Regions from separate parts of the Homo sapiens genome. Here region 1 is linked to region 2. Evidence: fine-mapped expression QTL. A gene starts in region 2. The other region holds a variant in brackets. All regions are shown on one strand. Distances are from middle to middle.

What was found. PIP is the estimated chance that this variant, and not a neighbour inherited with it, causes the effect.
Region 1: its variant is fine-mapped to the expression of ARMH1 in whole blood (TOPMed, PIP 0.97).

Annotation. Positions count from the first base shown.
Region 1 is chr1:44,716,170-44,726,964 of GRCh38, forward strand. It overlaps ARMH1 (armadillo like helical domain containing 1), which reads left to right. Exons shown (of 12, transcript NM_001145636.2): 7 at 7,953-8,075; 8 at 8,151-8,223; 9 at 8,370-8,499; 10 at 8,593-8,670; 11 at 8,967-9,048; 12 at 9,122-9,422. The coding sequence ends at 9,234. RNU5F-1 (RNA, U5F small nuclear 1) reads right to left here and starts at 5,733; the gene lies at 5,616-5,733. It overlaps LOC105378690 (a long non-coding RNA gene), which reads right to left and starts at 7,950. Exons shown (of 5, transcript XR_007066059.1): 1 at 7,866-7,950; 2 at 5,790-5,870. RefSeq lists a silencer at 7,268-7,562. The variant C/T (reference allele first, on the strand shown) is at 5,737.
Region 2 is chr1:44,670,320-44,681,114 of GRCh38, forward strand. It overlaps ARMH1 (armadillo like helical domain containing 1), which reads left to right and starts at 4,395. Exons shown (of 12, transcript NM_001145636.2): 1 at 4,395-4,554. TMEM53 (transmembrane protein 53) reads right to left here and starts at 4,162. Exons shown (of 3, transcript NM_024587.4): 1 at 4,012-4,162. The coding sequence starts at 4,072. It overlaps SNORD145 (small nucleolar RNA, C/D box 145), which reads right to left and starts at 737; the gene lies at 638-737. RefSeq lists an enhancer at 3,606-4,107 and silencers at 3,875-4,014, 4,165-4,214, 4,285-4,334.

The DNA.
Region 1 (10,795 bases), 46 kb after region 2:
CAGGTCTTCTTCTCCTTCTTTGCTGTCTATGGCACCTCGTCCGCTCCCACAACTTTAATTACCACGACTTTATGTACCACCTACCACCTTGATGACAGAAACAATAGTCGCTAATCTTTATAGAGTGTTAACTCTATGCTGGATACTGCCCTTGATCTTTACTCATTTACCCCTCACAGCAAGCCAAGGAGGTGGGCACTATTATTTTCCCCATTTTATGGATGGAGGACAGAGTAGTGGAGTGACCTCTCTATAGCTCTAGACCTGTGTGTCCATTTGCCTTCTGAACACCTCCCCTCAGATGTCACCAGTGGACTTCTGATATTCCAGTTCCAAAGCTTTTCTTCTCCAAGGTCCCAATCTCAGTGGAAAGTACCCAGCTGCCCAGGCTAGAAATATTGGTAATTGTCTTGTCTTTTTGCTTCCCACCTTCAACCAACTTCTAACAAGACCAGTCAATTCTAACTCTTCAATATGCAGATGCGTTCCCTCTTCCCCATTCTGTCTCCACTGCTGTAATTCAGGTCTTCATACTGCTCACCTGCACTGGCCTCTACACCAATCTTCATCTGTCCAGTATGGCGCCCACACACAGTTCATTTTCCTAGTCCACCACCAGAGTGGAGGCAGTAGACTTAGTGGTGAAGAATATGGGATTTGGAATCCGAACTATTCTTTTTTCTTTTTTTTTTTTTTTTTGAGACGGAGTCTCACTCTGTAACCTAGGCTGGAGTGCAGTGGCGCGATCTCGGCTCATTGCAACCTCTGCTGCACAGGTAAAAGATATTCTCCTGCCTCAGCCTCCCAAGTAGCTGAGATTACAGGCACCTGCCACTGCGCCCAGCTAATTTTTGTAGTTTTAGTAGAGACGGGGTTTCACCATCTTGGCCAGGCTGGTCGTGAACTCCTGACCTCGTGATCCAACCGCCTTGACCTCCCAAAGTGCTGGGATTACAGGTGTGAGCCACCGCGCCCGGCCTGAAATCAGAACTATTCTTATTAGCTATCTGATCCTGAGCGAGCTACTCAACTTTTTTGAGCCTTCCTTTTCTCTGAAATGAAATGAGAAAAATGCCTGCTGTATCGGGTTGTTGGCACATGCATAGCCCTGCAGAAGCTGGGGCTGGCCTGCCTCCACAGGCTTAGCTCTGATGCATGACCCAGCATCCCTGTTTCCCAGCCAGATCTCCCTTGCCTGGCCACAAATGTGACATGGCACTATCCAACATGGCACTTGCCACATTCTACATTCCAGCCCCTCCCTTCTCCCTATGGTTTTGCCAATTCACGCATCACCGTCTCCAAGGAATCCTTCTCCTGATTCTCCATCCCCTATCATCTCCACTCCATCAACCAACCTGGCTTCCTTTGTGTTCCCATGGCCCTGATAACACTGCCTCATAAATGCCAGTTTCCCTATTGGTATCCCCCACTCAGCTGTGATGTCCCTAAGGCCAGTGATTAGATCTTAGTCCTCTTCATAGCCCTAGCCCAGAGGCCTGGCACAGACAAGATGCTCAATGAGAATTTTGTTAAATAAATGAATGAATCAATGAATAAATCAGTGATTGCTCAGCTTTAGGACATTTGGGTGTTATCAGCACCACAGGCTTTAGGCAAAGCTGCCAAAGATAGTCTTTTGTTGTCCTTTGCTTTCTGAAGGAATTGCCCTTCCTAGTAACTAGCACGATATATAAAGAGTTGTAACTGGCTGTGGTTCCTGTGAAGACATTTGGGCAGAGACCAGTACTTTCACTTTGGGTATAAACAGTGACAGCTGTGAATTTTAAAACTCAGTCAGAAATGATTCAGTGAATAAATCTTCATTTTTCTAAGTAGCTCCAAGTGTTACAAATACATAATTAGCAAAAGATTAAGCATTTAGGTAAAGTGAATAGTCAGAACTAGACATTTGTCTCCTGGAGTATTTGGTTCTACATGGGCAGAAAATGCTATTTGTGGTCAAGAAATTTTCATAAAAATATCTTCACCTGTTCGTTTCTACCCTGAGTGTCCACCAAGTCATGTCTTGCTGCAGGAAGAGCTCTTGGGCACAGGCAGACATTTGCCCAGGATGTCCTGGCATTACGCACTGCCAGCTTGTGCCTGGGAAGAGCCCAGCTACTAATGAGGGACGTGCTGCAGGCGACAAAGCCAAGTGTCATCAGATGCATGAGGGGCCAGACCACTTGGCTCCAAAAAAATGAGCTGCACCAATTCAAGAAGAGGGAAGAAACCAAATGGTAGAACAAGTGAGAAATACTTTGGGGTTTCAGGCAGCAGCCGGTGCAGGCTACGGCTGCCAAGCAGCCAGAGATGTCCGGTCTGCCATTTTGTCCAGATCAGAGAGTGTTTGGGGGAAGCCAGGGAAGCTCAAGTGCTTTGCCCCTTCCCGGGGCTGGTCCCTTTCCCTCCACAATGTTGCTGGGCCTTTGATTCCAAAATAGGACCACATCTGGGCAACCAGAGGCTGCAGAGGGTGGGCAGATGGGATTGCGAGGGCTACCTTAGAAGACTTAGAAGAAAGAGGCAGCCCAGCAGCAGTGGCTGGTTGGTCATAAGAAGCGTTTCTGGGCCGGGCATGGTGGCCCATGCTTGTAATCCCAGCACTTTGGGAGGCCGAGGCAGGCGGATCACCTGAAGTCGGGAGTTCAAGACCAGCCTGACCACCATGGAGAAACCCGTCTCTACTGAAAATACAAAAAATTAGCTGGCCAGTGTGGTGCATGCCTGTAATCCCAGCTACTTGGGAGGCTGAGATAGGAGAATCACTTGAACCTATGAGTCAGAGGTTGCAGTGAGCTAAGATCGCACCATAGTACTCCAGCCTGGGCAACAAGAGTGAAACTGTCTCGGAAAAAAAAAAAAAAAAAAAAAAGGCATTTCTGAATGAAGCCACTATTTCTAAATCAGGAAGGTCCTCAGAGGAAAGGGTCTGCCCCACAAGGTCTGTCCCCCAAAGGGTGAATAAGTACTGGAAGGGGTAGCACAGGATGTCTTTGAAGATCTTCCACCTCCAGGTGATTTTTTAATTCTGTGATTGGGAAAACCAGGATGAGACAAAACTAGCTTTTATAGGGCTTCAGGACCAGGCCCCCTCTAGTGTGCCTCAAGGCTCTGGAGCCTGAGGATGATGGGCAAGAGGCAGAGGAGAGCAGGATCTGGCACAAGGGCAATTTCGAGGAGGCAGGCTGGTTCTCTACTAGTAGCCTTTCCATGCCTTTCCTTAGATTGACACACCAGCCAAAACTCATTCTCTTCTTCCTGCCGAAGGGCACTCTGAGCCCTGGAGTGGAGAAGTCAGCTCCCCATCCCTCCGCCGGTGTTTTCAGCACCCAGGAGAGCTGAGCATGCAGCCTGCAGCACACAGGATGTGGCTGCTCCCTCTGCCTTCCCAGACCACTGCTCTTTTGGAAATCATCAATGATAGTTTTCTGACAAAGTTAGAAATCGCCAGCATGTGTTCCTTTTTAGGCAGCATATGTCTGTTTGGAGTTAAACAAGTAAAGTTTGCAGGAGCTGAAGCAGAGACCTGTTCTGTGTGCTCTGTAAATCCACGCAGTCCACATCTCTGACCATCTCACCAGGTGCCCTGTGTCTCCCACTGTGAGAAGGACCACACTCTTCCCCTTTCTGTTGTGCCTGGGTTGTATGATATGAGCATCCATAGAGTGGTGCCCAGTTCTGGGGTGGCCAAGAAGTATAAGGTCCTGGCTTCAAAGCACTCTCAAAGTTGGCCATGGGGCCAGGTGCAGTGGCTCACGCCTGTAATCCCAACACTTTGGGAGGCCAAGGTGGGTGGATCACCTGAGGACAGGAGTTAGAGACCAGCCTGGCCAACATGGTGAAACCCCGTCTCTACTAAAAATACAAAAAAATTAGGCAGGTGTGGTGGCGGGCGCCTATAATCCTAGCTACTTGGGAGGCTGAGGCAGGAGAATTGCTTGAATCCATGAGGCAGAGGTTGCAGTGAGCCAAGATCGTGCCATTGCACTCCAGCCTGGGCAACAAGAGCAAAACTCTGTCTCAAAAAAAAAAAAAAAAAAAAAAAGTTGGCCATGGGGTATACGGGGAGACAGCTGCCACAGTTCTGGCTCTCCAGCCTGTCCAAGATTCAAGCTAGGAAAGTTCTGTAGCTGTGTGAATGAGGACCACAGTGGCCACTGCAGAGCCTCCTCTGGGGTCATCCACCACCAGGCTGGTGGTTTCTAAGCGTGGTCCTAGGCTGCCATGACCCAAGCCTCGCCTGTTGGAATGCAGAATCCAATGAGGTCTTTTCAACAAGATGTATGGAGCATGCATTGTGTACATGGAATGGTTTCAGGCTCTAGGTAAACAGAAGTGAGATGTGTCAGATATGTTCATTGGAGTTCACACACTAGTGAGGAGACCATTTAGTGGATAGTACTAGAATTCTATAGCAAGAATTCTATACGGTGCTACGGGTTCAGAGACATAGGACATCTACTCCTGAGTGAAGAGTGAAGGCAGAGGAGAGCAGGCCAGGGGCAGCTTCCTGAAAGTTGATTTCTCAGCTGAGCCTAGAAGAATGAGTAGCAATAGCCAGATAAAGAAGACTTCTCAGGCCGGGCGTGGTGGCTCACACCTGTAATCCCAGCACTTTCGGAGGCCAAGGCAGGTGGATCACTTGAGGTCAGGAGTTCAAGACCAGCCTGGCCAACATAGTGAAACCCTGTCTCTACTAAAAAATACAAAAATTAGCCAGGCGTGGTGGTGCGCACCTGTAATCCCAGCTACTCGGGAGGCTGAGGCAGGAGAATCCCTTGAACCCAGGAGGTGGAAGCTGCAGTGAGCCGAGATCGTACCACTGTACTCCAGCCTGGGTGACAGAGTGAAACTCCATCTCAAAACAAAACAAAACAAAAAAAGGGCAAAAGAAAGAGAAGGCACTGAGATTCTGCTCTCGGTGGGAAGTCTGATACCTCTAGCATACATACTTTAAGTTGGACCCCAGAAGACAGTACCCTCAAGGTCAAGGTGGGCCAAAAGTAAGCCGGCCCTCAGGTGGTCTTGTATGGATTATATAACTACCAGGTGGTCCAGAGAACCTCAAGTGTTGAATGTGGACAAAGGTAGTCCAGAATTGTTTGTGTCCCCAGGTACCTGATAAAAACAAAAGAAAACTATCTCTGGAAGAAAGTATCATCATCCTAACTCTTAAGTTTTTCCTACACTTAATTTTTCAAATATGAGACCAGTCCAAAGTATAAGATAATCATGCACACAAAGTCATCACTATAAATTGGAACTAGCACACTAGAAAGACTCACAAGACTTCAGCCAAATTATTAGATACAGACTGTCAAAAACTAGGTTTTCTTTTAAAAAAAAAAATCTTATAAACATTTAGCTTCCTAAATGTTTACAAGAAGCTAAAAAAACATGACAGTAGGCCGGGCACTACAAAAAGTACACAAAATTAGACAGGCTTATGAGGCTGAGGTGGGAGGATTGCTTGAGCATGGGAGATGGAGGTTGTAGTGAGCCGCGACCACACCACTCCGCTACAACCTGGGTGACATTTGTGGAGCTACCCCAACCTCCCAAAGCATGAAACACCCCACCCACACGTCTCTCTTTAGTAACAGAACATTCAGCCTTGCCTAGGCAAGACTTCAAAAAATTTAACCATAAACTCATAGTTGTTTTTCTCCACGGAAATCTTTAGTAAAAGGCGAAAGATTTATTCGTTATGAAGAGAAACCAGAGATCTGC[C/T]TGTTAGCCTTTTGCCTGGCTTCCCAGCTATTGACTGGTCTCCCTCTACTTACGGTGCCTTTGGACCTGCAGACAGAAGCTTTTCTTCCACTGTAGAAAAGTGTCCTAAACATGTTCTCACTGGGTAAAATCTCCTGACAAAGAAAAAAAGTTTAAATATTATTATTCAAACAGATAACCCTGGTAATAATTCTCGTATCTACAATGCATTCTGGGATGCAAATGAGCTGAGCGCCGGAACAAGAGTTCCTCTAAACCCTCTCTCTCTTACCAGTAAATGGAGAGAGGCACTTGACTACTGAGCTGGGGAGAGCACATGGCCAAGTCCTGTCTTCCATGTAGCCACATGTGTTCAGAGTAGCAGTGCCCGGTGCACAGTGACTCACACCTGTAATCCCTGCACTTAAGGAGGCAGAGGTAGGAGGATCGCTTGAGCCCAGGAGTTCAAGACCAGCCTGGACGACAGAGTAAGACCTTGTCTCAGAAAAAAAATAAAATTTAAATTTAAAAAAAAGTCCAGGCGTGGTGGCTCATGCCTGTAATCCCAGCACTTTGGGAGGCCGAGGCAGGAGTTCTCGGTCACTTTGGGAGCACTTTGGGAGGCCTGAGCACTTTGGGAGGCCTGAGGTCAGGAGTTCAAGACCAGCCTTGCCAACATGGTGAAACCCTGTCTCTACTAAATACAAAAATCAGCCGGGCGTGGTGGCAGACGCCTGTAATCCCAGCTTCCCAGGAGGCTGAGGCAGGAGTATCGCTTGAACCCGGGAGGCAGAGGTTGCAGTGAGCGATTGCACTCCAGCCTGAGTGATGACAGTGAAACTCCGTCTCAAAAAAACAAACAAACAAAAATACTAGCATTTACTGGCTGGGCCCACCGGGCCCAGTGGCTCATGCCTGCTATCCCAGCACTTTGGGAGGCCGAGGCGCGTGGATCACGAGGTCAGAAGTTCAAGACCAGCCTGGCCAAGATGGTGAAACCCCATCTCTACTAAAAATACAAAAAAAAAAAAAAAAAAAAATTAGCCGGGTGTGGTGGCGGGCGCCTGTAATCCCAGCCTACTCGGGAGGCTGAGGCAGGAGAATTGCTTGAACCCAGGAGGCGGAGGTTGCAGTGAGCCGAGATCGCGCCACTGCACTCCAGCCTGGGCGACAGAGTGAGGCTCTGTCTCAAAAAAAAAAAAAAGGTAGCATTTATGCTGGTGTGCCATCATCTTAGCATCTCCTTCTCCTCCTGCCCCCTCTAGCTCTGTGGTTCCTTTCTCTTCTTTACAAAAACATTCAATCCTTGCCGATTTTCTCTTGTGCTCCCACAGCCCAATCACTGACTCCTTCCACAGCACCTGTCACCATATCATCGCTGCCTGTTTGTGCACGCTTAAGGAGGGTTGGTCGAATGAATGAATTCAGTCTGTATCCTCAACACCCAATGCCGCGCCTGGCACCATAGGCGTTCACATGCAGCCGTGCCGAAAGACTGAGTGAATGCTGGACTGAATGAATGACTGCCTGTAAAATATCTACAGGAAAGCCCTGCAGGAAATGCCCTCCATAAATTCTAGTCCCCTTCTCCTTCCTAACCAAATCCTCCCCTCCTTCTGCTTCCATCACTTCCTAGCTGTGTAACTTAGGCAAAGTGGTTTACCTCTCTGTGTCTAATTTCGGCAAAGGTAAAATGGGGAAGTGAACCTCATCTGGTTCTGGTGAGCTTCCACGGGTGCTGTATGGAAAGCCTGGCACCCTGCCTGGTGGAGAGGGCTCGATGATGGTTAGAAGGAGAGTTTCTCTAAACTGCCGCCTACCTTCCTTCCCCTTTCTCATTTCCTGCCACAAGTCTCCCACCCACTTTCTCTGTCTCCCTCTCACCCCTTGTCTTTCTCCATCTTGTCTTCCCGTAAAGACCCAGCCCTTCCCTCCTCCATGAAACCTGGATTCCTCCAAGGCGAAGGCCCCCCTCTCTGGGGTCTCAGCCTCCAGCGCTGACATCCTAGGCCGCCTCGACAGGTGGGCTCACCATCCAACCCTTCCTCCTCCCCCTTCAGCCCCCTCCTCCTGCTCTTCAACTGAGGTTCGCCTTCCCAGCTCCCCCACGCCCTGCACAGTGCTGATCAGTAAAAGAGGAGGACACTGACGAGTGGCGACTTGGTTCACGGGGTTCTTTGCTTCCTCGGTGGCGGAGGGGCCTGGGGCCTCTCTCCAGCACCTCTGCCCTTCCGCAGCCATCGAGTTGATCAAAGACCTGGTCGGTTACGATGTGCGCCAGGCGCTGCTCAAGGGCCTCGTGGCGCTGCTGATACCGTCGGTCAAGGAGATCTCCAAACTGCAGGCCAAGATCCTCAGTGGTAAGGACCTGCTCAAATGGGGCTGCCTGGGCCACGGGAGGGCGGTCTCTTGCCTCACGGCTGCCCCCTCCTCAGACCCCTCGGTTCTCCAGCTCACCCCCAGCCTGCCGATGTTTTTGCAGCAGGCCGCGGCCGCCAAGGCCATCGGGTAAGCGGGCAGGGGTTAGTGGGTAGCTGCAGCAAGCCTGGCTTGGCGCTGCCGGCGGGCCCCGGGAGCGCTCCGTGCGCCGGGTGGGCGGGGGTGTGCGCCGGGTGAGCCCCAGGGCGTCGCCCCAGCCCGAACCCCCGGCCCAGGGTCCTGGCGCGCAACGACATGAGCATCGCCGAGGAGCTGCTGTACCTGCGCGTGGTGCGTGGCCTAATGGCCGCCATGGGCAACACGGACCACAGCAACAGCCAGCGGCTGGCCAGCCTCACGCTGGAGGTGCGCGCGGCGGCTGGTTAGGGGGCGGGAAGGGCGGCGGCACCCGCAGCCCCGTCGCCCCCGCAGTCACGCCGCCTCGCCCGCGCGGCGCAGTGCTTCGTGCAGATGTTCCCCTTGGTGGCGGAGCACGTGCGCAAGTGCATGGGGGAGGAACTCTACCAGCTCTTCCTGGTAAGTGCGCCCTTCCTGCCCCGCCGCAATGAGCAGATGGCGGCTCGGACAGTGTGATGCCCCTTCAGACAGTCCCCATCCTGGAGCGCGCCACATGCAGAGTGGACCTGGCCACCAGCTGCAGGAGGGACTGCTCTGGCGTAGGCTCCTCCACCCGCCACCTTCCTGTTCCCTTTCCTGCCCTTTCGGTCAGGCTGCCGACCCGCCCCCCACCTGCAACATCCCTCTGCCAAGCCCAACTCCAAGTCCAGACTGCCCTGGCACCCCAGCCGGGTCCCCCTTGCTCCTGTCCTCAGAGCAACGCTGAGGACTTGTACATGAAAATAGACAGCATTCAGGCGGACATCTTGGCGGCCAACACAGTCAATGTTACCAAAGGTGAGTGTGGGACGAGGGAAGCCGGGCGCAGGCGCCGCCAGCACAGCCTCACGCCCGCCTTTCCTGCCTGCAGCCCTGTGCCTCCATGGCAGCTCCTACAGCATGAACACTCTCTATGGCTCGCGCGATTCGGCTCAGATGGCCTACCTCACACACTTCGAGGAGGATGTAGAATCAAAGGAGTAACAGCCCCTGTGGCAAACCAGGAAGGCCAAGGCTGCGGGGCAGGGAAGCCTGGCAAGAGGAAGGCGCCTGGGGTCAAGCTCAGAGCCACTCCACTTGGCTCCAGGGGGGAGACGGGGATTAGGCATCCCAGAGGGGCAGAGGAAGAGCCGCTGGCTGCGAAGAGTCAATAAACAGCCTTGATACCTGTCTGTTCTTTGTGTGTGTGGAGGGGGAAGGGAGGTCAAGTGAGAGCTATGATGCTAGATTGTGGTGCCTGTGCTCCTCAAGTTAAAAAGCAGGTCCAAGTTTAGGACGGTGGCTTGCACCTGTAATCCTAGCTACTCTGCAGGCTGAAGGAAGAAGATCTCTTGAGCCCAAGAGTTGGAAGCCATCATGGACAACAAAGCAAGACCCCATCACAAAAACAGGCCGGGCACGGTGGCTCACGCCTGTAATCCTGGCAGTTTGGGAGGCTGAGGTGGGCGGATCGCCTGAGGTCAGGAGTTCGAGACCAGCCTGGCCAACAGGGTCAAACTCCGTCTCTACTAAAAAATAAATAAAAAATAAAAAATTAGCCGGGTGTGGTGGCACACACTTGTAATCCCAGCTACTTGGGAGGCTGAGGCAGGAGAATCACTTCAACCCGGGAGGTAGAGGCTGCAGTGAGCCAAGATCACACTACTGCACTCCAGCCTCCTGGGCGACAGAGTGAGACTCATTCTCAAAAAAAAAAAAAAAAAAAAAAAGCAGATCCAGAGGGAAGGGCCACCAACACCCTAGAAGGTTCAAGGGCATAGCCTGAATAGAGGGCCTCACCTCCACTCCCTGATGGCCTATGCACCCTTTCCTCCAGAACACCCTACCTACCTGGTTTTTCTCCGGTTGTTACAGACATTAAAGGGGGTCGTTTGATCCTAATGGGTCCTTTCCTTGCCTGGAACCATTTGCACCAATAGAACAAGGCCAGGTTCCATAAAGCAGAGCAGAAGCTTTATTCATTGATCTAGGAGATAGCAACAGGAGGCAGCCAAATGCCTAGGCAGATAGGGGTGGGTCCCCAGTGAACCCCACCTTCAAACCAAAAACAGCCTGAAGGCTGAAAGACCGACTGCTGGTCCTGGATGAAACCCACAACCCAGAGTGAGAACTTCTGTTTCTGTTTGCCTGCCCTTTCCTGATTGATTCTTTCTGAATAATGCCTTTTAACCAATTGAATGTTGCCTTTTCCAATACTACCTATGGCCTGCCCTTCCCCCATTCTGAGCCCATAGAAGCCCTGGACTCAGCCATATTAGGGGGACTTTCCCACTTTCAGGTAGGGGGACCACCCCCCACAGCCACCGAAAGCTGTTTTATCACTCAGTAAAACCCCACCTTGCTCACTCTTCAATTGCCAGTGCATCCTCATTCTTCTTGGGCTCGTGGGACGAGAACTCGGGAACCAGTGCATAAGCTAGACTCCGCCAACTGGACTGAGCGGGTGGGTCGTCTCCTGCAGCAAGTAAAGGCCATCTCCTGCAGCAGGTAGCCTGGCGAGTGAGACCTGGCAGGGCATTGCTGGCCAGAGGTCCCCAGCTTGCAA
Region 2 (10,795 bases):
CCTCCTGCCAGGCCCCTGTTCCCTCCAGCCACTCACTGTCCCCCTTCAGGGATTTACTTCTGCACTTTCTCCCATCCAAGTTCCAAGCAGGCCTGACACTGCTTAGCTTCTGAGATCTGCATGTTCAAGGTGGTATGGCCATGGACTTGACTTCCACACTTTCTGCTGCTCACCATGGGGGTCTGTCAGCCCTCCTGAAGCTTCAGGTCCAGCTTGGGCTGCTCTACTCTAGGAAGCCTCTCCCACCACAGGGCCCACCATGGTGGTCCAGACCCTTCAGCACTGTCTCCTGGGTGTCCGAGACAACTTCCTGAGGGTTAAAATGATGTCTATATTTCTTTGACCTCAGCCAGTGATGAGCAAAAAAGGCATGCGGTAAAACCTGGGGAGCAAAAACCCCCTCACTTCCCCTCTCTGTGATCCCCTTAAGACCTTCTGTTTACTTTAAGAGCAAAATGTTTGTCCCATGACCAGGCCCCAGACTCATTAATTCTATGAATGAATTTTTCTTTATGTTTACTGAACATGAGAGCCACACGGTGCCTTTAAGAAGGTTGCTGGCCTATGAGCAAGTCACAGAGGGGATCTAGGTGGGACTTGGCTGACCATTCTCTGGATGGGAGGAGGGGTGGCACGGCCTGGGCCTGGGATGTCAGAGCAGCTCTGGCTTGGGCCTACAGTGCTGCCAAGTGATTCCATTCAGCTCACTTGGTACATCATCCCTCCCAGGCCCTGGTGACAGTGAGTGAAGCCATCAAAAACACGACAACAGGAAAATATAGTGCTTATGGGAGCCCCAGGAGAGACCCTTCCCAAATGAAATGAAGTAAGAGAGGGTATTGAGAGACTGAGGGGATCACTGGCCTGGGAAAAAGAGAGGGAGGAGGGAAGACAGATTCTGGGTCAAACGACCGGCTTTAGCAAAGGCCTGGGCAGACGACCATCGGTGTGGGCAGCCAATAGGTACTGGCTGGTAGGATTCCCAGCAGAAGGATGTTGGGCTGCCAAGCCTGACCTACAAGGCCCAGGGCTCTGAATGACCCCAGATCTGCAGCTGCCTTCCAGCTAGCTAATGTGCCAGCATCAGCTTCTCTGTCAGCTCACAGCAGTGATGGGCTCTGTGGTTTCGATTTTTCAAATACAGGGGAAAAGTAATTTCAGGCCAGGTGCAGTGGCTCATACCTGTAATCGCAGCACTTTGGGAGGCTGCGATAGGAGGACTGCTTGAGCCCAGAAGTTTCAAACCAGTCTGGGCAATACAGTAAGACTCTGTCTCCATATAAGAAAATGAAAATTTTTTAAACTGAAAAAAAAAAGTGTTTTTAAAGGCTGGGCACAGTGGCTCACGCCTGTAATCCCAGCACTTTGGGAGGCTGAGGCGGGTGGATCACCTGAGGTCAGGAGTTCAAGACCAGCCTAACCAATATGGTGAAACCTTGTCTCTACTAAAACTACAAAAATTAGCCAGGCATGGTGGCGGGTGCCTGTAGTCCCAGCTACTTGGGAGGCTGAAACAGGAGAATTGCTTGAAGCCAGGAGGCGGAGGTTGCAGTGAACTGAGATCGTGCCACTGCACTCCAGCCTGGGCGACAGAGTTAGACTCCACCTCAAAAAAAAAAGTTTTTAAAAAGTAATTTCAGAAACTAAATATGAATGTCCTATACACTTCTCCACCATTAAACAGTAATTGCAAAAGACAGACAATCTCTGGGGCTCCAAAAGACTGTCACTCTATCAGGCCATGTTGGCCTGGAGGGAAGCTCTGCAGATAGGAAGCAAATGGATTCAGGGGACCACAGCGTCGTGATCTCCTTCTGAGGGGTTTGACAACCTCTAGCTCTCCTCTGGAGCATGGACTGTGAGAGGGAAGGGCAATGAATTAAAGCCAGTCAGGAGCAGCAATAAGGAGGAGAAACAACTGAAAGCCGTGGAGGTGTTTCCCTTGGAGGAAATGTGAAGGCACGAAGCTGTCCTCTTGAACAGAGGAAGAGAGATTCCTTGCTCTGTATCGTTCCCACCACAATGCTCTAGCCCTGCAGTTAGCACACCATTTTGAAACCACCTGCTTATAAATTCACTCCCCTCCCCAAAACCTCAGCTCCTTGGGCGTGTGAGTCACTTCTGAGTGGCCAACAACGATCCCACAGCCAGGACACAGCAAATACTGAACTGAGAGCGGAAATTACAGGAAGGCCTATTGTGGCTCAAGAAAGGGAAGTGCTTTCTAACAATCCCAGCTGCCTCCAACAGGCTAGAATGTTTGGGCAGAAGCATCGCCCCAGGGAAGGGTCTGCTAGCAATGGAATGCACTCATGCCAACAGAGGGAGGCAGGACAAAACAGTCTCTGAGATTTCTTCCAATTCTAAGACCCAGCCTCCTGGAGCAGCAAAGGGAGCCATGGGATCCGCCACTGCACTCCGGCCTGGGCGACAGGGGAGACTCCATCTCTTAAAAAAAAAAAAAGAAAGGGGGGCTGAGGGGGAACCACAGGGGAGCAATGCAATGGCAGCACCTGCACTGTGCCAGGGACACACATCCAAACGCTACCTCGTAACCCTCGCAATCCCACGAGGAGGTAGGCACTAGTACTCTTCCCATTTCACAGTGGAGGAATCTCAGGCTCAGGGAGGTTCAATAGCTTGCCAAAGACATATAACTTGTAAGACATGGAGCTGAAATGTGAACCAGGACCACGAGGCTGCCCTCCTGGCCGTGCAGAAGGCAGCTCCAACCCTTTGCAGCCGAAGACTCTCCAAAGGAAATAATATTAACTGACTTCATGGCTTGCTGACGCCAAAACGTGTCCAAAGTATTTTTACATCTATAAACCCAAAAGCGCTAAGCCAGCAGATCCAGTTCTAGGGAAAAACAGCTGGTCTGGGGCCATCTGTTCTGCGGGAGTCTAAGGGCTGCCCTCTCCTAGACTCCAACCAAAGAACATGAGATGCTACGGGAGGGATCTGGGAAGGCTCTCCTTAAGGAGGTAAGTTTTATGGAGAGCAGAGTATAAGATCAAACCTTTGCATTAGAAAGATCACTGTGGTAGCAGTTTAAGAGGCTGGGCTGCAGGCAGTGAGACAGGAGGCGTGAAGGCGATGCTGGACTAATGCAAGTGAGGGACACGCTGGCCTCAGGCTGATCATACTTCAAGGCCCTTCTGCCAGAATTCCCAGAGAGACCAAACTTTCCACTCTCTGGACCCCGATCTACTCACACTGTCATGGATGCGGGCCTGCTGTCAATCCTAATTTTGTGGAGAATCCTACATGTCTTTCTTTAATGTAAGGAGAGAAACAATGCTGATCGTAAATGCCAATTACTGAACTCACTCCATGCCAGGCCCTTTACACAATCTCCAGATGGCCCCAACAGCCCTATGAGGAAGGTTACTATCCTTATCCCGGTTTTGCAGAGGAGGAAACTGAAGTTCAGAGAAGGTAGCTTACCAAAGGTAATCCAGCTCCTAAAGGAAGGAGTCAGGATTTCAGTCGAGTTCTACCCGACGGCAGAGACTGCACTGTTAACCACTGCCGAGAAGAGTGGAGAGGGACGGCTAAGGGTTCTGAGTCCCGGGCTTCTGCGAGGATCGGTGACCCCGCGAGCCTCCCCCTCCACGCCTTCGGGAAAATAATAAGTGATAGGCTAGATGTGGGAAGCCCAATCCCAAACAAAGGAATCAGGAGGGATCCAGCTTTCGGCAGCCTTCAGCTATGAGAAGTGATTAAAGGGCATGGACCTGAGCACCCCGGACAGGAAAGACAGAAAAAGAGGTCCCAAGCGAGCAGCTGACTCGGGCAGAGGCGGGGCTCGCCAGGGAGGAACACTCTGGGGCGGGACTTACGAGGGGCGGGGCTCTCTGAGCCTCTCTAAGTCTAGGACCTGCCAGACCCTATGAGGGGGCGGCCCGAGGGAGGGCGGGGCCGCATGAGGGGCGGGGCTACAGCTGCGCTCGCAACCCACAGGTTCATGAGGTCACCTCCCCGCGCCTGGACCCAACCCTCATTCCATACTCTGGCTCCAGCAGGGCTGATCCGGGATCTCGATGGTGTAGTCCAGCTCTGCCGAGGCCATGGTGAAGGCGCCGGCCCAGAGCACGGGTCTCCAGCCGGAACTCCCGCTTGCGCACCCGTGCCTCACCCGGGCGCCTCCTGGGCGCCGCCCAATCACCACACACCTCCCCCAACACGGCCCAATCCCTGCGCCGCGCTCTGTGACCTCCCGCCTTAGCAACCACCGAGTCTCTTCCAGAGCCTCTCGCCTCACCCCACTAGCTCGGCCCTAGCAACCATGCCCCGCCCCTATTACTGACCCGCAGCCATTGGCTAATTCGCTTGATCTGGATCAGGTATTGGTCAGCCGGGGCGCCGGTCAGGAAGAGTCCCCACCCTCTCATGTAGGTGAGAGGCGGCTGAAGAGTTGCTGTATTCTGGGAATGGGCAGGGTCACTCGTCCGAACAGAGTCCTATCCTACGCGGCGGAAGAGTGTGCCCTTTGACTTGCATCGTCTACCTACCTCTGCCATCCTCTACCAGCCGCAACTGCGAGGGCTGGAGGTATAAAACCGTACAAAACGGCCTAGGGGGCGCGTGCCGACCCAACCTCCACCCAGTGGGGTTGAGGCATATTCTGGATGGATGGATGGATGGATGGATGGATGGGTGGATGGGAAGCAGTCTTCAGTTGATGACTTTAGAGAATGCCCTGTTGATAGGGCCCACCGAGGAGCTGGGAGTGCAACTTTCTTGCATTTATCTATATTTACATACTATGTGCCAGCATATTTACATACTATGTGCCAGAGACTGGGTGGGCTAAATAAGGTTCCTTAGGCCCTAGTGAGAATCAAGCTTTTGGCCCTCCCTCTCCCATGTCTTAACGGGAGAGGGAGAGAAACCATGCATGAAGCAACTCTGATTCTGCGTGTGAGATAAATACTACAGAAGAGTAAGGATTTGAGGAGCTCAGAATCAGAGAAGGGGCATTTATGGCAGTGGGGTTGGCTCTTGAGCTGGGCCTTGAAAGACTTTTAGAGATAGGGAGGGGGAAAGACTCTTTGCATGCCAGGCGCGGTGGCTCAAACTCGTAATCCCAGCACTTTGGAAGGCCAAGACGGGAGAATGGCTTGAAGGAGTTCAAGACCAGCCTGGGCAACATAGTGAGACCTTCATCTCTACAAAATTAAAATTTTAAAAATTAGCCAGGCATGGTAGCGCATGCCTGAAGTCCCAGCTACTTGGAAAGCTGAGGTGGGAGGATCACTTGAGTCAGGAGGTCAAAGCTGCAGTAAGCCATGATTGTGCCACTGCACTCCAGCCTGGGTGACAGAGTGAGACCCTGTCTCAAAAAACAAAACAAAGAGCCCAGTGTGGTGTCTCACCCCTGTAATCCCAGCACTTTGGGAGGCTGAGGCGGGCGTATCACTTCAGGTCAGGAGTTCGAGACCAGCCTGGCCAACATGGCGAAACCCCATCTCTACTAAAAATACAAAAATTAGCCGGGCATGGTGGTGCACACCTGTAATCCCAGCTACTTGGGAGGCTGAGGCAGGAGAATGGCTTGAACCTGGGAGGTAGAGGTGGCAGTGAGCCGAGATTGCTCCACTGCACTCCAGCCTGGGTGACAGAGCGCGACTCTGTCTCAAAAAAAAAGAAACATTAGTGCAGGAACTGGATTGAGGATTGGGAGAAGGAGGGAGACCAGTTAGGAGGTTGTTTCAGTAGTGGGGAAGGATTATGGTGGCACAAAGCATGGAGTGGCAGCTGAAATGGAAAGGGCAGGATGAATTCCTTAGACACTTATAGCTAGAAAAAAATGGACTTGGTTACTAATTGGGTGTGGGGGAAGTAAGGGAAATGAAGGATGACTTCTAGATTCCTGGTTTGGGCAAACAGGAAGGAGAGGAAGCAGGGGTTTTTAGGAGAGGGTCAGTTCTGGGCACGGTGAGCTTGGGGTGCCAATGGAACATCCAAGTGGAGGTATCCAGAAGGCCATTGGATATGCCTAACTGGAGTTCGCCAGATAAGTCTAACTGGAAGTTGCAGTGTGGGAGTCTATGGGGCCTTATAGATGCCAGCCACACCAATAGATTTGTTGAGCTTGCCCAGGGAGTAAGTGTAGAGTCAGAAGAGACCTAGGACAGAGCCCTGAGAAACACCCAAGTTTGAGGGTCTGGCAAAGGAGGACGAACCTGCAAAGGTAATCAAGATGAAGTGTCCAAAATGGTAAGAAGATCAGTAGTAGTATGTGGTGTTTCAGAAGCCAAGGAAGGAAAGTGTTGAAGGCTTATGACTAATCAAGTAAAATAAGGCCTGAAAGAATCCACTGGATTTAGAAACAAGGAAGTTGTTGGTGACCTTTACAAGTGCAGTTTCAGTGGAGTGATGGGAGCAGAGGTCAAATTACAGTGGTTTGAGAAGCAGATGGGATTGAGGAAGTGAAGATTCATGTAAGATACATTTTCAGAAAGCTTGGCTATTTAGGAGAAGAAAAAAGAAGGCAATATCCAGCAGGAAACACAGGTTTTTATTCGGATGGAAGAAATGTTGATGTGGATCCAGCAAAGGGGAAAAAGATAAAACTATAAGGGAAAGAAGATAACTGAGAATGGTGCCCTTGAAAAAAAGACTTCACCAAAGTGTTGGTGAAGAAATTCACTTAGAAGGGTGGAGGAACATTTGTTTTGTGGCAGAAGGGAAGCATTACGTTGAGGTTAATTGGTGGGTTTGGTGACAGGAAGCTGAGGGAATTCTTCGATGGTTTCCATTTTCTCTGTCAAATAAGAACATTATATCAGCCAGTGAGAGTGGGATTGGAGATGGTGTGCGAGATTGAAAAGAGCAGAGAAAGATTAAAATAGCAGCACTGGAGAGTGGCAGTGAGATGACTAAGGTAGCAAACAGATTTCTGGGCAGTTATCATGGCCCTGTCGAGGTTAGTGACCATTAATTTTCGGAAGCAGCAGTCTGCAAGGTTGTGTAATATGCATTTTTCCCTCAACAACATTCAGCCACCTAGTGGTGGGTACACAGAGGTTAGTTTAATTGATCTAGGTTTGGGTTTTACCAGGCGGATACAATGGAAGGACAAAGGACAAGGAAGTTGAAGATTGTGGCAAAACAGTGATTGAAATGAAGGGCCTTAGTATCTAAACTGGATAGGAGAGTGAAAAAAAATGTATGGACTAGAGGTCCCAGTGAAGTCAGAGAATCCACATCTGAGATCATTGAATGAGGGAGTTGTGATCAGAAAGTGGAAGAATGAAGTTTGAGTAGTTTCCGGTGATGACAAGGTCCACTGTGTGGCCGTGGGAGTCAGTGACCAAAGTGGAGTACAGGAGACAGTCAGGATGCTGATGTGGCCACTGAACTCCCCCTGGATGATAGAAAGACTTGAGGGGAGGGAAGGGAAGAGGATGCCCGTGAGCTAGGTACCAGTCTCTGATGGGCAGAGCAGGTTTTTCTGGAGTCTCTAGGTGACAGCATGAGGAGGGGCAAAGGCTGAGACAGCTAAATGGTATGACCCTTGAAGTAGTAAGGGCTTTTACAAGAAGGAGGTGGAATAAGGAACTGAGTTGGGCTTTGGCAAGGAGACATGAGGCCCCCTCCTAAACCTGAAATCCTGGGGGTGTAAGAATCTAAACAGATTCTACCAGGAGGGCCATGCAGAAGGGGAGCCCTGGGGTAGAGCCAGCTTTGGATGCAGGCTGGAGGTGGGCAGGTGACTGGAGAGGCTGAGGATGGAGGAGACTTAGCTGATTGGGAAGAAGGGTTTTCAAGAGCAGAGTAAAAAGGTTGGGAAGGGAAGGAAGGCTGGGAAATGGGTCGAGGAAGATGAAGCATAGAGCAGTGAAGGGGCAAGGAGAGTGTGGTTGACCTCGCCAGTTACATGTTGTGGAGAGAGGATGAGGGCAGGTCTGTGGAGCAGTGTTGGAGGCAGAAGTGAGTCTGGGGAGAAGAAGAGTGGGGGCTGTGGGTAGGAATGAGGGCAAGTGGGGAGAAGATGAAGGCAGAGGATTTCATAGGAAGGAGATGGGGGAAAGGAGTTCTTGTGGGGAGAGGATGGAGAAAATGGACAGATGTGAGGAAAAGGTGGGGGCAGATGGAGTCTACCAGGAAGTGATGAGTAGCAGGGGTAGGGGTATCTGCCAGGGTATGACTGGGGAGCAGAAGAGGGTCCATGAGAAGGAAGTGACAAATTGGAGTGCATATGCCCCTGGGAGAGAAATAAGGACACCTTGTTTGGAAGTTTGAGGAGATAATGTTTCTCTCTCCCTATCTCTGAATGGAGAACTGAGAGTTAGGAGTCAGGGACGGGAGCCCAAGGAGAAGGCCTGTCTCATTCTACATGTGAAACCTACAGGAATAGGAGGCAGTGACTTGCTTGTTGTCTCCGAGGCCATGTGGGGACAGTGAGCCAGGCTGGCAACCCATGCCTTGGAGGCCTCTTTGCTTTCAGAAGGTGTCTTTTGATTTGCCGGGGGGGTGGGGAAGCCCTCTGGGAAATTTTATTTAGAAACAAGACCTATTGACCTCTTGATTTTTAATACCTCCCCTTCGCTTGTTGCCAAGGACCTTTGGCTTAGCATGAGAGCTGAGGCTTTTGAGATTGTGTGATTTTAGTTTCCCTGCATGAAGAAGAACCATTTGGCCACTATAGAAATGATTTATGGATGAGTCCAGATTTATTAATCACCTCTGAAGATGGAGAGGAAATTAAAAACAAAGAGTCCACTCTGGGCTGAAGACAAAGTAGGTCTGTTATCCTTGCAGAAGACTTTGCCAAGGTTAGAAGGCCACAAACAAACCAATTTGGACCGAGGTTCTTAATCTGGATTTTTAATTTCGCGTGCTTGATTTTTTGCACCGTTTTCTCTCTGAGGTAAAATAATGACTATTTTAATTGGCTGCCACTTACAGAGAGATCCCAATAAGCATGATGGCATACATATATTTTTCTCTGGCATTCCATGTGTGCTCCAGTTCTTATGATCAAGCTGGTGAAGCTGACTTTTACTGCATGCTGCATGCCATGATCAGTTGACTATAAATTAAATCTTCTTTTCCAAAAGCCATTTTCCATTAGTGCTAATTTGTTTGCTTCTCATTTCCACTGATCATTAGAGTCTCTGGTTGTGAGCACCAAATTGGAAATAATTTCTGTGACATTTCAAAAAAAATTTCTCCCCTTCTTGAATGCCATTTGGCTGCAGCTAAATAACATTATGGTTTACAGAAGAACAGTTCACTCCAATTACAATTTAACTGACCGTTCATGGCACTGAATCCCTGTCCTTAGTGTCCAAAGATGACACCGCTGCTGACATTGCTGTTTCCTGTCATAGCTGTAAAACACCTCGTAGACTTTGCACTGGCCTTCTTGGATGGAGATTCTGCCACTCCGCACATGGCAGCTTTGGGAAGTTGGTAGTTTTATGGACCTGCATATCATGGACATTCAGATATAATCATCTCAACAGGAGCTGGGTGATTTCTTCACACATTCACTCAGCGAGCATTTATTCAACATCTGTTTTGTGCCAGGCATTATGCCAGGTCCTAGGGACACAGAGACAGGGAAGACCAACCCCTGCCCTTGAGGAACTCACACTCTAGTGGGAAGGATGGGTAAGTTTTAAAGCATATTAGAGGAAGAGGTGGCATGGATGGGACCAGAGCTGCAAACCCCTAGTTGTCCCAGGGAGTTTGCCAAAGGGCAAAAAGGAACCTGGCCATTCCTGATGGCAGAGCAACACTGAGATGCAGAGGGCCCTGGAAGGGCCTGGGGAGTTGAGAGTGCAAGGTTGTTGTAATGTGGAAGTGACTAGAGATGAAGTTAGATTGGGGCCAAGTTTGTTTGTTTGTTTGTTTGTTTGTTTGTTGTTTTGAGACACTCTGTCACCCAGGCTGGAGTTCAGTGGCACGGTCTTGGCTCACTGCAGCCTCAGCCTCCCAGGTTCAAGTGATTCTCCCGCCTCAGCCTCCCGAGTAGCTGGGACTACAGGCGCGTGCCACCACACCCAGCTAATTTTTGTATTTTTAGTAGAGACGGGATTTCACTATGTTGGCCAGGCTAGTCTCGAACTCCTGACCTCATGATCCACCGCTTCAGCTTCCCAAAGTGCTGGGATTATTGGCGTAAGCCACTGCGCCCAGCTGGGGCCAAGTTTTGAAGGGCCTTGAGTGCCATATTGGGTTTAGACTTTATCCAGTAGGCCACAGTGAGCTAATGGAGAAATCTGGGGGTGAAGCAAGTAGGAAGGGTAGAAGCTTACGGAAAAAGTAGTTAGGAGATGGCTTTGTTTGTATATTTATTTGGGTTGGTGGGGATTGAGCAAGTGTTTAAGAGGAGTCAGGGAAGATGGGAAGATTGAAGACAGGAGTAGAACCTAGTGCCCACGGAGAGGGTGGGTGCTGATACGATGATCGTAAGAGGAGAGGGTTGCGCTTGATGGCCCCTATATTCTCTGTGAAGTTGGAAGCAAAGTTATCCAGGCATCCTCCTTGATTCCTCCCCGTCTTTTATCTTCCACAGCCAGTCAGTCACCAGGCCCTGTTTCTTCAAATGGTGTGACATTTCTACTTTTCTCCAACCCTAATATCATCAGCGTCTTTGTCAAGGCCGTAGGAATGACTTCCTAACTGGTGCCCCCACCTCCAATTTGCCCCCTTCCGATCCCCTTTTTTTTTTTTTTTTGAGACGGAGTCTCGCTCTGTCACCCAGGCTGGAGTGTAGTGGCGTGATCTCGGCTCACTGCAAGCTCCACCTCCCGGGTTCACGCCATTCTCCTGCCTCAGC